2 separate regions of the Homo sapiens genome follow, and region 2 is linked to region 1. Evidence: fine-mapped expression QTL. Tissue or cell type: lung. Region 1 holds a variant in brackets; the other region holds the start of a gene. All regions are shown on one strand. Distances are from middle to middle.

Region 1 (8,250 bases):
CATGGTGATTTCCTGCACCTGTCATCTAGGTTTTAAGCCCCGCATGCATTAGGTGTTTGTCCTAATGCTCTCCCTCCCCTTATCCCCCACTCCCTGACAGGCCCCAGTGTGTGATATTCCCCTCCCTTGTCCATGTGTTCTCACTGTTCACAATGTTGGTTTTCTGGAGAGACTTCAAACAAAAAGAAACCCATTTTTATTAGCAATGTCTGATGTTTTGCAGGCTTGTGGGGATGTGCTCTACTTTTTTCTATTTTGATTCATTTTGTTATCAGGGCTCCTTGGTTCAGAGCTCTGTATTTTGTCAGTTCTGCCCTTCTGTGTAGTTTCCTTTATGATATCTTTTGAGTGGTTGTGGTAGGCAGGGTTGGCTTGTCTTGCTTATCATTGATTTCTGCAGGATCCTTAATTTTTCAATCTTAGTCCCAACTTTTCTTTGAATACTTGGTCTCCAAGAGGTACCACCTCTTCTGTCTTATCTGATTCTCCTCCAAAATCACAGTTTCCCCGAGGTAGCTGGACTGTGAATTACCAAGGGCTGATCTGTGCTCAGTGTCTTTGCATTTATTGTCTCACTTATACTCGTTTCTGAGGGTGGTTTTTTCTGTGTTCCCTGTGGGTCCTTGGCTCCTCCCTGCTCTCCCTCACAAAGTCTTTTCTGCCTCTTCTCCTCCACTCCGTGTATCCACAGGCTAGGAATGCTGTGTTAGAATTAGTTTGTTTGCTCTTTCTTCTGCTTACAGGTAGTTTGAGATTTGTATTTTCCGATTCCTAGAAATGCTGAAGGAATAGGTCTTGTGTGTTTTATTTGTCCTCCTTTTTGATTTTATTTAATTTTATTTTTCAGGTGGGTAATGGGGAGTTTCAAAATCAGCATGCCACTATTCCTTTCTAAACCTCAGAGTCCTTCTGTAATCAGTTTCATAAATGAAGAAATTAAAAGCAAATATCTATCCTTACTTTTATGTTTACATTTTCAAGAAAAGCTAGAGTTTTGAAGTCTTTAATATAGTTATGCTATATTAAATAGAATTTCTGACCTTTATTGTAGTTGTTTGCATTAAAAATCATAAATTTTGTTATTCAACAAAATCTGTTAAGTTTTGAATAACAGATATTTTACTGCCTACTGTTTCTACCTTTTTTCCTTTTGAAAATATCATCACTGAGTTATAAGAGTCTTAAACCTGATCAAAGATCATCTAATAATCCAGCCTTTTTTTGTAGGTGAGTCGACTGAGGCTCAGAGAGGTGATGTGGTTGCCTTAGATCGAACAGCTGGGTGGAAATATGACTAGAATCCTGGCTCCCAGATCATTTATCTTTCTCCAATATTGGACTTCTCTTAGGAGTCGGGACCTTAAAAATATAGTTTGGCCATGTACAAACTAATTTTATACTATACATCTTTGTTCTATATAGTAATGAGTAAAGCAAAAGAGAGAGAGCCTCTGTCAAATAGCTACAGAACCTCCCAGAATGATGTCCTTGAGGGAAGGGCAATAAACTTATTGCTACAGTGTGCTGTCTTGAAGCAAGGACTGTAACCATGGGCTATAAAATGGTTATGTTAGTCATAAAAGAGCTGCAAGAGGTTTACAATTTTAACCTTTAATTTTGCTGTTGGATAAAGTAAAAACTAATTTTTACTTCAGGATTTTTTCAGAAGTGTAACCAGGGAAATATTACCAAGGAGAAGTTCTGACATTGATTTAAGATCTTTTGCATTCAGCTGCTTCTTTAGTTTAGCAATGTGATTTCAGAGTTACTTATACAAAACAATGAAACTAAAGGGAGTCATAATCTGAATGAATGCTTTAAACAAGCAGAAACAGTCTAATAGGTTCCTGACTAGGAACAAATATTTTTAAGACAACAATTATTGTGGCTCAATTTCCTTTAATTTTTCAAAATTTAATTAGATGAAATGTACCTGGTATATATTTTCTGGCATCATCTTTTGAGAATAATTTTGTCATAAACATAGCTACTTTTTATTATGTATCTTTTATATGGCAGGCACTCTTTTGGTGCTTTACAAATATTATTTGTAGTTATTGTAACAGTGATCTAAGGCAAATTGGTATCCCTATTTGATGACAAGAAAGCTAAAACTCAAAGAAGAAACTTGGTCCAGATTTGTTTTTTTGTTTTTTGTGATGGAGTTTCACTCTTGTTGCTCAGGCTGGAGTGCAGTGGTGTGATCTCGGCTCACTGCAACCTCCACCTCCTGGGTTCAAGCAATTCTCCTGCCTCAGCCTCCCAAGTAGCTGGGATTACAGGCATGTGCCACCACACTAGGCTAATTTTGTATTTTTAGTAGAGACAGGGTTTCACCATGTTGGCCAGGCTGATCTCAAACACCTGACCTCAGGTGATCCACTCTCCTTGGCCTCCCAAAGTGCTGGGATTACAGGCATAAGCCACCATGCCTGGCCCAGATTAGGGTTTTTAAGCAGCTGAGCATGGAACAAACTCAACTCTTTGTGACCCCAAACATAGGCTTTTTTATGATATACCCTATTAGCTGTATAGGAGGATCAGATTAAGATAGGATTCAGAAGGCACATTGTAGAATCTATACCATAGCCTTAATTACCTGGTAATATAAGTAATCTCTTTGGTAATATTTGCTCACAAAATATATGCTCTAGCTGACTACAAGACTCCTTGCCTGAGATCCCATGATGTGCATTAGAAGTGATGGAAGCACCACTAGTTGCTATCACTGTTGTTCTGCTAGCCTAGGATTCTCTGAATAGAATACTAAGGGATTACTTGTAGAAGATCTTGGTCTTTGCTTTCTATAATATGAGATATCAGCTATCACATATCTCATATGAAAAGGGGAGAAACACATCTTTCTTTATAACTGAAAAAATGCCACAAAAGCTAATTTGATTTCATGCATTTGGGAAACAAACATCTTGGAAATTTATTGCACCTCCTAGTTCTTTCTTAAATTAGATGTGCAGCAAAAACATAGGCAGGAAAAAATTCCAAATCAAAGACATTATATCATTCTAATCCTTTTTTTAAAAAGTCCCTTTGAGATGAAGGATGTACTTAGGTGCAATATTTTTTACAATACAATACAAAATAAATACCACATTTGTAATCAATTTATCATTACTTTTTAAAAAAATAAACTGGGAAAGATCTTGGTAAATAGAACCCACTGCTTTATTTCCAGAGCTTTAAACAGTCACAAAAGGAGTTTGAATAGAAACCATTTGCAATTAACTTGCAGACATAATGATCTTTTTCTTCTAAAAACACATTTCAGTGTGTATTTCTTTAATAAAAAGGAACATTGTCTAACACAGCCACAGCACAATTATAAAAGTCAGGAAATTAACATTGATACATAATCTAATATAAAGACTTTATTCAAATTTTGAAAAAAATTTTAACCCAATGTCCAATCCAGACTCATACATTGATTGCATTTAGTTCTCATTTCTCTTCAGTTTCCTTTAATTTATAACTTGCTTGGTCTTTCTTTATCTTTTATGACCTTGACATTTTTCAAAAGTATAGGCCAATTATTTCGTGGTCTATCTCTTGATTTGAATTTGTCTAGTTTATTTATGATTACATTTGGATTATGAATTTTTGGCAGGAATGTCACAGAAGTAATGTTCTGTACTTCTCAGTGCATCATATCAGGAGGCACATGGTATCTTTTTGTCCTATTATGGGTGATATTAACTTTGATTACTTGGTAATGGTAGATAGATCATTGTAAAAATGCTATTTTTTCCTCACTGTACTTATTATATATCTTGTGGAGAGATACTTTGATACCAAAAATATCAAACTTTTACCCATTAATTTTAACATTTATTGATGATTTTTTTTTTTGAGATGGAGTCTTGCTCTGTTGCCCAGGCTGGAGTGTAGTGGCTCGATCTTGGCTCACTGCAAGCTCTGCCTCCCAGGTTCACGCCATTCTTCTGCCTCAGCCTCCTGAGTAGCTGGGACTACAGGTGCCCGCAACAACGCCTGGCTAATTCTTTTTAATATAT[A/G]TTTTTAGTAGAGATGGGGTTTCACCGTGTTAGCCAGGATGGTCTCGGTCTCCTGACCTTGTGATCTGCCCACCTTGGCCTCCCAAAGTGCTGGGATTACAGGTGTGAGCCACCACGCCCGGCTGATGATTCTTTACTGAATAAGTTATTACTATAATTGCTATCAAGTAGTATCTTACTTATTCTTACTTATATCTTACACATTCATCTTACCTTGCTGTATTTTCAAGGAAGAGGTGCTATGAGAGGAAAAACCTGTAGTAATCTTTCAAGAGAGGCCTAGGTTTGTGCAGAACCCAGGTGGGTTGCAATCCCTTTAGGTCTAGATATGATGCACATCCAGTTGGGAATGATCAATATCATGATACTTTATGCTCCCTAGAGATTATTGTGCATTGTGTATGTGTGCATGTGTGTGTGTATCTGTGTAAAATAAGCTGTGGTTGCCTTGGGTTTAAAAAAATATGAATATATTTGCATGCTGTTATAGTAGAATTATAGCATTATTTTTAGGGCTTTTTTTCTGCAAAATTATTGCTTTCATGTTTATCTTATTAAATTATTGCTTTGTGAGGATTAGTTTTGGGATTTATATAGTATATCACGATAACTGGATTTTATATATTTTTATTTTAAGATTAAATACCATCTTTTTTTACATTTATTCTCTAGATTGGTTCAACTTATCTCAATCAACATTCAAACTGAAGTTAGGAGGAATACCTTACTTGAAAGGTTATTTTTTCAATCTGCCATTTTTGAATACTATTTTTGAGGATCCAGAGTGTTGGAACAGCAGCTACTAATATGTGCATTGCGGCAAGTGGAGGAGCAGAGGCATTTTATGAAATGGGAATTCACTGCTGGGATATTGCAGTAGCTGCCATTATTGTTACTGAAGCTGGTGGCGTGCTAATGGATGTTACTGGTAAAATTATGAGATAGTGAATCATTTTTCCCTTTACATCTCTTGGACTTTCCTCTGTATATGGAGTTTAAAAAAAGTTTGATACATATGATAGCTTGGATTTTAAGACAAACAGGCTATATAATTTTGTGCAAAATCAAAATAAACATTAGGAGATAGAGGCAAGGATGAGAACTAATGGCAATATGGGACTGATAGTGATAAATGGCTAAGCCTTTTCAAATGTGAGTAATAGGAACTCCTGAAAGGCTGTTGAGAAAGCCTAGAGAGTCACTGACTCTGAGGCTTGTATTTAGAGTTCTTTGAATGCTGACCATTGTGATAGTTGATGATTGACTTCAGTCCTCCACCATCACCTTCTGTGTTGGGACTAGAGAAGTTAAATATTTGCTTTGAGCTGATGGTGAAATTTTTGAAGTGAAGAGTGAACCTGGGTTCAAAGAATTCACCAGTGATCTGAGAGAAAGGCAACAAAGAAATAAGGAAATGGGAAGGATAGTGGTATGAAAATTAATTGGAGTCACATTTTCTGTCCATAGATTCTTAAACAGTAAAGAGGTAATAACAGTGTATATACACACACACACACACAAACAAAGAAATAGAGAATAGATGACATTTTCAGACTAGCATGACTTGAGACTCCCTCTCTCCCCCACCAACCTTGCCAGTAAATACCAAAAAACTGGTATTTTAAAAAACATATACTTAGAAACTCAGCTATGGATTGCCAAAGCTTAAACATTGTAGTTATGTGACAGTAGATTTTTAAAAGAAAACTGAAAGTATTAAAATGTCGTGATTGACCATAGTGCACATTGCTGTACTTGTTTGATATAAATTATTTTTGTACCAGATATAACTATTTACCATACTTGATTTGTTTTAGGTGGACCATTCCATTTAATGTCACGGAGAATAATTGCTGCAAATTGTACAGCATTAGCAGAAAGGATAGCCAAAGAAATTCAGGTAGCACCTTTTCAATGAGATGATGAAGATTAATTACAGCAGCCTCATAGTCAATCACAGTTGCTTTTCCCCAGATTTGCTGACTCACTGTGGATACGTGTTTCAGATGTATTATATGCTTAGTTTAAATTGTCTTTGTCCAGATTAAGAATTTTGAACTTGTTTCATATTTTACTATGGCTAGGTTTGCAAGAATAGACATGATGTTTACTTCATTGTTTAAAAAAATTGCATGTAAGAGCTTTAGGAAAAATACACAAAAAGTATAGTTGATGAAATAAGTATAACATCAACTGAAATAGTTAGCAATTTTGCATTTCTGAGTATCAATGGTCTGAAATTTTGACTTGCTATATATATGTATGCCTAGACACTCGCTTAGAAAGTTACCTATTTGGAAAAAAAAATTGTTTGGTTTCAAAAGCCATATTTAAATTTGTAAGGATATATTGAGTACTTCCTAGACCAAGGTTTTTTTCTTTGCAGAGAAACTTTTTTGTTTTATTCAGTGCTCATATAACACCTAGCACCGTGCTTGTCAGTTAGCAATCAAAATTAAACATTGTAAGAATGAATATTTTGAAGTCATCAATTCCTAGTTATTATATAGAGTAGATACATAATGAGCTCACCATTCTGTACTTTTGCTGTATTTTTCATGATGATGTGAATTTTGAAGTAAAAACAGTCTAGTTATATTTTGTATATTTCACATTAACATACTGCCAGATAGAGTTGCTTATTGTAGGCATTTCTGCGATAAATATATTTTCCAAAGCACTTAGTTAAGGTATGTATTTTAATTTGCTTTAAACTCCCTAAGAGAGAAGAAACTGTTCCCAAAAAGCACTCTCATCAGATATCTGATATATTTAGATACAGTGTAACATTTTACTCATTTCAATAGTCACATTTCAAAGATGTTGATGCTGATTTATGTTGGCAAATTATGCATTATTATTAATATTCAACTATTTGGTTTCCTCCCAAATCCTTATATAATTTCATTGTAACTGGATTCCATTCAGCCTTTAAGTAAGAGAATAGATGACATTTTTCAGACAAGTATGACTTGCAATTTCCTCTGTCTCACACCAACCTGGCCAGTAAATACCAATAAATATCTTTTTTCTTTTTTTTTTTTTTTTGAGACAGGGTCTCACTCTGTTGCCCAGGCTGGAGTGCAGTGGCGCAATTTCAGCTCACCACAACCTCTGCCTCCTGGGTTCAAGTGATTCTCCTGCCTCAGCCTCCTGAGTAACTGGGACTACAGGTGTGCGCCACCATGCCCAGCTAATTTTTGTATTTTTAGTAGAGGTGGGGTTTCACTATGTTGGCCAGGCTGATCTCAAACTCCTGACCTCGTGATCCACCTGCCTCGGCCTCCCAAGGTGCTGGGATTACATGCATGAGCCACCACGCCCAGCCACCAATAAATATCTTAATCATCCTTGGCCAACAGAATGGATTTTTTTTAAAAAATGTGGTCTAATCACATGAAGAATGTTCTGTAGCAATGAAAAAATAGACTCCAGTTACACGCAATAATGTGGATGATTGCAATCTGGCTGAAGCTCTAACTTCCAATGGTTCTGCACATTTTGATATCACCAACGATATCCTAATAATTTACAGAAGCCAAATTGTTTCTGCTTTGAACTTAACCTCTCTTCAGTCCTTCCCCCTTGCTTGTTTTGTTTTAAAAAAAAATCCCATGTTGAAATGTTCTTTGTTCCTTTCTTTGTTTCTTTTGCTGACTTTTCTTCTCTGGTGATAATACAGTTCTGTAGAGTGCTCTCCTTGGTGGTTTACCTTCTGACTGTCAAGTCACTCTGAGGAGACCCATGCAAGCCCCATGATTTCAACCATCACATCCTTTCTACTGACTCCCCAGTCTTGACCTACAGCCCATATTTCCCATCTGAATTCTCCCCCTGCATCTCCTGCCCATACTTGATCTGTTCAATATATTTCTATTTTTTGCTCATGCTTTTCTACTACTATACTGCAGCATTCACCTCGGCCCTTTCAAATTAGCACCTAATATATTTGAGTTTTCTCTTTCCCTAGTCTTCATATCCAATTTGTCATAAGTCATGTTTCAATTGTCCAACCAAACTGGAACACTAGCTCTTCACTGGCCTCCTCTGAGCCTTTTCAGATGACCGTCATTCTGCCCAGAATAGTCTACACTAATAATAGATTACTTTTTTATGATTGTGAAGTTTACTATAAGTTACAGTGATTCTCCTTTCTCTGGGAGTTGACCCCAACAAACAGGACTGTGCTGACTGTCACCACATCTGTAGATGGTGTGGCTCT
Region 2 (8,004 bases), 88 kb before region 1:
AGGTCAGGAGTTCAAGACCAGCCTGGCCAACATGGTGAAACCCATCTCTACTAAAAATACAAAAAACTAGCCAGGCATGGTGGTGCATGCCTGTAATCCCAGCTACCTGGGAGGCTGAGACAGGAGAATCACATGAACCCAGGAGGGGGAGGTTGCAGTGAACCAAGATTATACCATTGCACCCCAGCCTGGGTGACAGAGCAAGACTTCGTCTCAAAAAAAAAAAAAAAAAGGACAGGTGTGGTGGCTCACACCTGTAATCCTGATACTTTGGGAGGCCGAGGCAGCAGGATCACTGGAGCCCAGGAGGTCGAGGCTGCAGTGAGCCATGATCTTGCCACTATACTCCAGCCTGGGCAATAAAGCGAGACCCTGTCTCAAAAAAGAAAACAGATAAAAATATAAAACATAAACTTTATTTTTCAACATAAGCTCCATCAAGTTTAAGACACTTTCGTAAGCAATGACGCCAGCCACTTAGTCCATTGCAAAATAACTGATGGTCCTGGATATTTAATCATGTTAATGCAGTCTGTTTCTTAACTAAAGAAAAATGGGTGCCCTTTAAAGTTTTTTTTTTTTTTTAAAGATTAGGAAACAGGAAGTCAGAAGAAGCAAAATTAGACCTCCTAAGGTAGATGCCTAATGATTTACCATCAAAATTCAAAATTTTCCTTGTTTTATGAGAGGAATGAGCAGGAGCATTGTCTTAGTGGAGAAGCAATCTCTGGTGAAGCTTACCTGGGCATTTTTCTGCTAAAACTTTGGCTGTCTCTAAACATTCTCATATTTTTTTTTTCTTTTTGTAGAGATAGGTCTTGCTATGTTGCCCAGACTGGTCTTGAACTCCTGGCCTCAATGGATCCTCCTGCCTTGGCCACCAAAAGTGCTGAGACTACAGGCATAAGCCACTGTACCCAGCCTCATAACACCTTTATAATAAGCAGACGTTATTGTTCTTTGGCTCTCCAGAAAGTCAACAAGAAAAATGCTTTGAGCATCCCAAAAAATAGTTGCCATGACCTTGCTTTTGACTAGTCCACTTTTATTTTGACTGGACCACTTCCACCTCTTGGTAGCTATTGCTCTGTTTGTGCTTTGTTTTCGGGATTATTCTGGTAAAGCCATGTTTCATCTCCTGTTACAATTCTTGGAAGAAATCCTTCAGGATCTTGATCCCACTTGTTTAAAATTTTTATTGAAAGACAACTGAAATTTTAAGTAGAAAACCCACCAGGAGAACAAAAGTACTCTTGTCTGTAGCTGATCTGGGTGCAATAGTTTCGGTACCCATCAAGTGGAAAGTTTGCTCAAGTTTAATTTTTCTGTCAGCATTGTGTAAGCTGAACCAACTGAGACATCTATGATGTTGGATATTGTATTAGTCCATTCTCACACTGCTATAAAGAACTACATGAGGTCGGGCGTGGTGGCTCACACCTGTAATCCCAGCACTTTGGGAGGCCAAGACAGGTGGATCACCTGAGATCAGGAGTTCGAGACAAACCTGGCCAACATGGTGAAACCCCATATCTACTAAAAATACAAAAATTTGCTGGGCATGATGACAAACACCTGTAATCCCTGCTACTCACAAGGCTGAGGCAGGAGAATCACTTGAACCTGGGAGGCGGAGCTTGCAGTGAACCGAGAGAGCACCACTGCATTCCAGTCTGGGTGACAAGAGTGAAACTCTGTCCTCCCAAAAAAGAATTACCTGAGAGTGCGTACTGTATAAAGAAAAGAAGCTTGACTCAGTTCCACAGGCTCTACAGGAAGCATGGCTGGGAGGCTCAGGAAACTTAAAATCATGGGAGAAGGGGAAGAAAGCACATCTTCACATGGCCAGCAGGAGACAGCAAGTGAAGAGGGAGGTGCTACACACTTTCAAACAACCAGATCTTGTGAGAACTCTATCATGGGACAGCACTAGGGCGATGGTGCTAAACCATCAGAAGCCATGCACATGATCCAATCATCTCCCTCCATGTCCCTCCTCCAACACTTCCTGTCATTACACTTCTGCATGAGATTTGGGTGGGGACACACAGCCAAACCATATTAGATATTGTCTGTGCTTTTTTTCTTCACAAATTGCTGTGAATGGTCTGCTGCTACGGGCTTCATCTTCAACATTGTCTCATCTCTTAAAATGAGTTATCCATTTGTAAACTGCAGATCTCCTTGGGGTATTGTCTCCATAACCTTTATGTGAAGCATCAATGATTTCACCATTCTTCCACCCAAACCTCACCATAAATTTGATGTGTGTTCTTCCTTCAATTTTAGCAGAATTTATGTTTCTCTGATAAAAGAGCTCTTTTCTAAATGTCTTATCATAGTTAGTGTCCCTCACTAGATCCTGTTCAGACATGTTACAAAAAGTTTATTCTGGTGCAAAAAAAAAATTGAAATTCATACACACTTTTTTATAATACATATTTTCCATGAAAATTTAGAAGAACACTTATATAGATGAATGATAGATTATCAAAGTTTTCCTAGATTTGTCAGGCTTTGTTCTTCACGGTTTTCAAATGAAAGGGCCTGGAGAAACCGAAGAACTAAAAGGGTTGCAGAAAGAGTCCTAAGGGGAAAGAAAAACTGATATACTCACATCTTCGACCTAGGCAACAAAAGTTATGAGTCAAGATATTTGGTCACATAACTAAAGATAACTTAGGTTTTATGACATTTTTGTTTTTTGTTTTGTTTTTGTCAGTTAAAATAGGGAAATTTTAACTGAAATATCAATGAACAGTCCCATTCCCTATCCTCACCATTGGTACAGCGGATCTTGTTTTTCTTAATGTGGTACATATTAATAAAATTTATGAGACCTAAGGTCTACTGCATTTGAAAGATTAACCGACATAAATGGTATACTTTTATAAAACTCGTTAAAATGACAAAAAGGTTTCACATTTTTGAGGAACAAATGATCTAAAATACTTAATACAAATTGGCATTACCTTGAACACATTGCATCATGATTACATGAAAGAGCTGCTGAAATGGTCATGTGTTCAGAGACTACTACATCTGTAGGCTTAATAGTAAACGTTTGGTTGGTTGGTTGGTCGGCTGGTTGGTTTGCTGCTTAGCATCAGGACACCCACCCCTTGTGTGGGAAATATACAAGTGTGTGAGTCTATGGGTTGAAATCCAAAAAGCCTGATGCTTTTTCTCATTCCTGGCAACCAAGGGATATGACCAAATTGGGTCAATTGAATGCCCTTGCCCCTAACTGTGAACAGAGAGTAGTGTTACAAACAAGGAATAAAAGATTAGAATCAATGCCAGTGTCTTTCCATTGCCCCATCGTGTCAGGGTCCAAGTGTCCAGTAGCTGTGGTCCCTTAACCAGCCTGTACCTTTGGCCGTGGCACCAGCTACCTACTTTCCCTATGTCCCCAAGTTATCTGGTAACCATTCAGGAATTTTTTTTCCTACTTAGGTATACAAAAAACAGTGTCAGTTTTTGCTTGACAGATTAAATCATCCTTCAGAGATGCAGGAAAACTATTAGCAGCCAAGGGATGCTGCCAAGGCCAGTGTCTGGGCTCTGCAGTTTTCTAACTTGTGATATTGGGTCACCCCACTAAGCTCCAGGAGAGCAGCGACTGCATCTGGCTTAATCATTATGGGATGGCCAGCTCCCAATTCCATGCCCTAGGCAAAGAGACATTCAGTGAATATTGATTTGACTTCGACTTGATTGAACAAAATGGTAACACTGAACTCTAGGTTTCCTCAGTGTCTGTTACAGATTTCTTGATCCTGACTGCTTTTAATTTTTTTTTTTTTAGCAAGAAATAACTAACGAATGATGACACTAAGCTTTAAATTCAAGTAAATAGGAGGCTTTTTTTTTTCGCATAAGCAGAAATGAGGAAATCAAGAGGAAGAGATTAGATTTCTGTTGTGATAAATCGAATCTGTTAAATGCCATGACTTTTTAATTGTCTTAATCACAAGTTAAACCGGTTGTGTTGCTGCTTAGATGGCTATATATTTGTTTAAAAGTACAGCAGTCCCTCCTACTGGACTTTGATCCTACAAAAACAACTGTTATCTAACTCACCCTCAGACTGTCACTGGAACACCTGCATGAAGAATGTTCTTTCATTTTTTAAAAACGATTTTGCATATATGATTTATTTCAGCTTTCAAAATGATTAGAAAACTTTTTATTGTTCTACTTTTGTTGCTTGTGACTATAGAAGAAGCAAGGATGTCATCGCTCAGTTTTCTGAATATAGAGAAGACTGAAATACTATTTTTCACAAAGACTGAAGAAACCATCCTTGTAAGTTCAAGCTACGAAAATAAACGGCCTAATTCCAGCCACCTCTTTGTGAAAATAGAAGATCCTAAAATACTACAAATGGTGAATGTGGCCAAGAAGATCTCATCAGATGCTACAAACTTTACCATAAATCTGGTGACTGATGAAGAAGGAGAAACAAATGTGACTATTCAACTCTGGGATTCTGAAGGTAGGCAAGAAAGACTCATTGAAGAAATCAAGAATGTGAAAGTCAAAGTGCTCAAACAAAAAGACAGTCTACTCCAGGCACCAATGCATATTGATAGAAATATCCTAATGCTTATTTTACCACTAATACTATTGAATAAGTGTGCATTTGGTTGTAAGATTGAATTACAGCTGTTTCAAACAGTATGGAAGAGACCTTTGCCAGTAATTCTTGGGGCAGTTACACAGTTTTTTCTGATGCCATTTTGCGGGTTTCTTTTGTCTCAGATTGTGGCATTGCCTGAGGCGCAAGCTTTTGGAGTTGTAATGACCTGCACGTGCCCAGGAGGGGGTGGGGGCTATCTCTTTGCTCTGCTTCTAGATGGAGATTTCACATTGGCCATTTTGATGACTTGCACATCAACATTATTGGCTCTGATCATGATGCCTGTCAATTCTTATATATACAGTAGGATATTAGGGTTGTCAGGTACATTCCATATTCCTGTTTCTAAAATTGTGTCAACACTCCTTTTCATACTTGTGCCAGTATCAATTGGAATAGTCATCAAGCATAGAATACCTGAAAAAGCAAGCTTCTTAGAGAGAATAATTAGACCTCTGAGTTTTATTTTAATGTTCGTAGGAATTTATTTGACTTTCACAGTGGGATTAGTGTTCTTAAAAACAGATAATCTAGAGGTGATTCTGTTGGGTCTCTTAGTTCCTGCTTTGGGTTTGCTGTTTGGGTACTCCTTTGCTAAAGTTTGTACGCTGCCTCTTCCTGTTTGTAAAACTGTTGCTATTGAAAGTGGGATGTTAAATAGTTTCTTAGCTCTTGCCGTTATTCAGCTGTCTTTTCCACAGTCCAAGGCCAATTTAGCTTCTGTGGCTCCTTTTACAGTAGCCATGTGTTCTGGATGTGAAATGTTACTGATCATTCTAGTTTACAAGGCTAAGAAAAGATGTATCTTTTTCTTACAAGATAAAAGGAAAAGAAATTTCCTAATCTAACAATTAAAGCATTACTGAATTCCTACTCTGGGTAGGGCACTGTGGGAGAGTAAAAGAATAACTATAATGATACCTGCTCTTAAGCCACTTATAATGTAATTAAAAATCTGACATTGGGGGGTAGAGAATACATATATATATATACACACACACACACACACACACACACACATTCGTATATGCTAAGTACTCAATGAGTGGTGGAGATGATAATACAGAAGTTCAGAGGAAGGAGACAACTTTGCAACTGTGTTGGTTTGAGAATGTTTTATAGGCTATGATGTCAATATGATACTTTCAGTGGTCTCCTAAATGAGACAGAGCAATAGAAAACTTATTTAGTGATTATGATATATCCTAAGTATTAAAAGAAGGAACACCCAGATAGCAGACATTTGACAAATTCTCACTCGGTGAATGAATTTGTAAATTTCATTAGCACATCAAAATAAGTATGTTTTAAAGTAAATGTGGCATCTCTGCCCTCAGAGCTAAGCTTTCTCCTGTCTTCCATGTTAACCCACCAAAGGCATTACTGTTTACCCCACAACACAGGGTCAGCTCTTCAACCTCATCTCTCTTCTGTCTTCTTTCTTTCTTTCTTTATAGTGAATGTATTTCCTACAGAAACAGCCTGTAATTCAATTGCCAGTGCTCTTCTCAATTCTCAGTGCTATCACTTTTTTCTGCACTATATTGCTTCTTCCCTAAACCTTTCTAAATTGGCTTCTGGCCTGTCTCTCCACCCTCTACTCACTGTCAGATTAATTTTCCTAAAATCTAACATTGACCATATAATTTCCCAGCAATGAAGACTTTTTGCTTTTTAAATGAATTTGTATTTCTTAATGAGGCATTTATTATACTCTACTGTCTGACCTTAACCTAGCTTCCCAGTTTTATTTATTATTATTATTTTTTTTTTTTTTTTGAGAAGGAGTCTCACTTTGTCACACAGTCTGGAGTGCAGTGGTGTGATCTCGGCTCACTGCAACCTCCGCCTCCCAGGTTCAAGTGATTCTCCTGCCTCAGCCTCACCAGTAGCTGGGATTACAGGCGCCTGCCACCACTCCCAGCTAATTTTTGTGTTTTTAGTAGAAACGGGGTTTCACCATCTTGGCCAGGTTGGTCTTGAACTCCTGACCTTGTGATTCATGTGCCTCAGCCTCCCAGAGTGCTAGGATTACAGGCTTGAGCCACCACGCCCAGCCAGTTTCCCAGTTTCATTATATCTCCTCTCTCACCTCGTTACACATAGTCTTTTACCCAAACAGAATGACTTAGTATGTTATGAGTATTGTTCATTCCAGCTAACCTGGCTTGTTTTATGACTATTTGTGTCCTGTTTTAATTTTCCTATTTTGCTCTAAGTCTTTGAGCATAATAACTATGTTTATTCATTTTGATATTCCCTATCACATCTAACACAGTATCTTCTGTGTGCTTATTCAAATAATGTGTTGAAGCACAGACTAGTGTCCAAATAAATAGTGTGCTTTTCAAAAACCTCCTTTTAATCTTCAGTGAAAATTTTTATTATCTAGGGCAAGTCTACGATCTTGTGCAAGAAAGTGTGGGATCGAGAATAGGAAATATCACTCTAAATAATCCTGCTTTCCCTATTTCCTAGCCTTATGGCAAATTCTTTGATCTTCTTATAGTCCAGTTTTCTCATTTAACAAATGAAGCTAATGGTGTCAACTCCATAGATTGTCCTAGGAATTAAGTGAGAGTATACATGTAATGTGCTTGGAAGAGTGCCTGGGACATAGTAAGTGCTATTGTTTTATCAGTTTTAACTTTCAACCCTGGTAGATCTGCTGCTAGTTTGAAATAGCAATCGTATAACTATGTATGGAGCCTAAAACTTTCAACATTTTCTATCAGTACTATTCACCATCTTGATCATAGAATTAGAGAATTTTTGTTTACTTTGCCAGTTGATAAGATAACCAAGGTTCTTTTTTCTTTAAATGCCACCAAATCCAGTATATGACTACCAAAATTTGTATAAAATCTGATATAAACCAAATAGACATGATAGATGTTTATTTGGTTTATAAAGTGATAATTGTGTATGTAGAATATTTTACTCCTTTAAACTGAAATATCCACTATAGGTTTAAAATAGAATTACATTTGTACAAATTTAACTTACATAATGTTTTGGGTTTTTTGTTTGTTTGTTTGTTTTGTTTTGTTTTTCTGAGACAGAGTTTTGCTCTTGTTGCCCAGGCTGGAGTGCAATGGTGCGATCTTGGCTCACCACAACCTCCACCTCCCAGGTTCAAGCGATTCCTGCCTCAGTCTCCTGAGTAGCTGGGACAACAGGCATGCGCCACCATACCCGGCTAATTTTGTATTTTTAGTAGAGATGGGGTTTCTCCATGTTGGTCAGGCTGGTCTCAAACGCCCAACCTCAGGTGATCCGCCCACCTCGGCCTCCCAAAGTGCTGGGATTACAGGCCTGAGCCACCGTGCCTGGCTGACTTGTTTTTTTTTTTTTTCTTTTTT

The links. PIP is the estimated chance that this variant, and not a neighbour inherited with it, causes the effect. A credible set is the group of variants that fine-mapping cannot tell apart.
Region 2: SLC10A5 starts here. The variant in region 1 is the best candidate, but not a certain one, in a credible set for the expression of SLC10A5 in lung (TOPMed, PIP 0.90).

Annotation. Positions count from the first base shown.
Region 1 is chr8:81,603,277-81,611,526 of GRCh38, reverse strand. It overlaps the pseudogene IMPA1P1. Among named protein-coding and RNA genes, the nearest start is that of FABP12, 74 kb to the right of the region's middle. The variant A/G (reference allele first, on the strand shown) is at 4,029.
Region 2 is chr8:81,691,142-81,699,145 of GRCh38, reverse strand. It overlaps SLC10A5 (solute carrier family 10 member 5), which reads left to right and starts at 4,088. Exons shown (of 1, transcript NM_001010893.3): 1 at 4,088-5,515. The coding sequence starts at 4,174. The coding sequence ends at 5,490.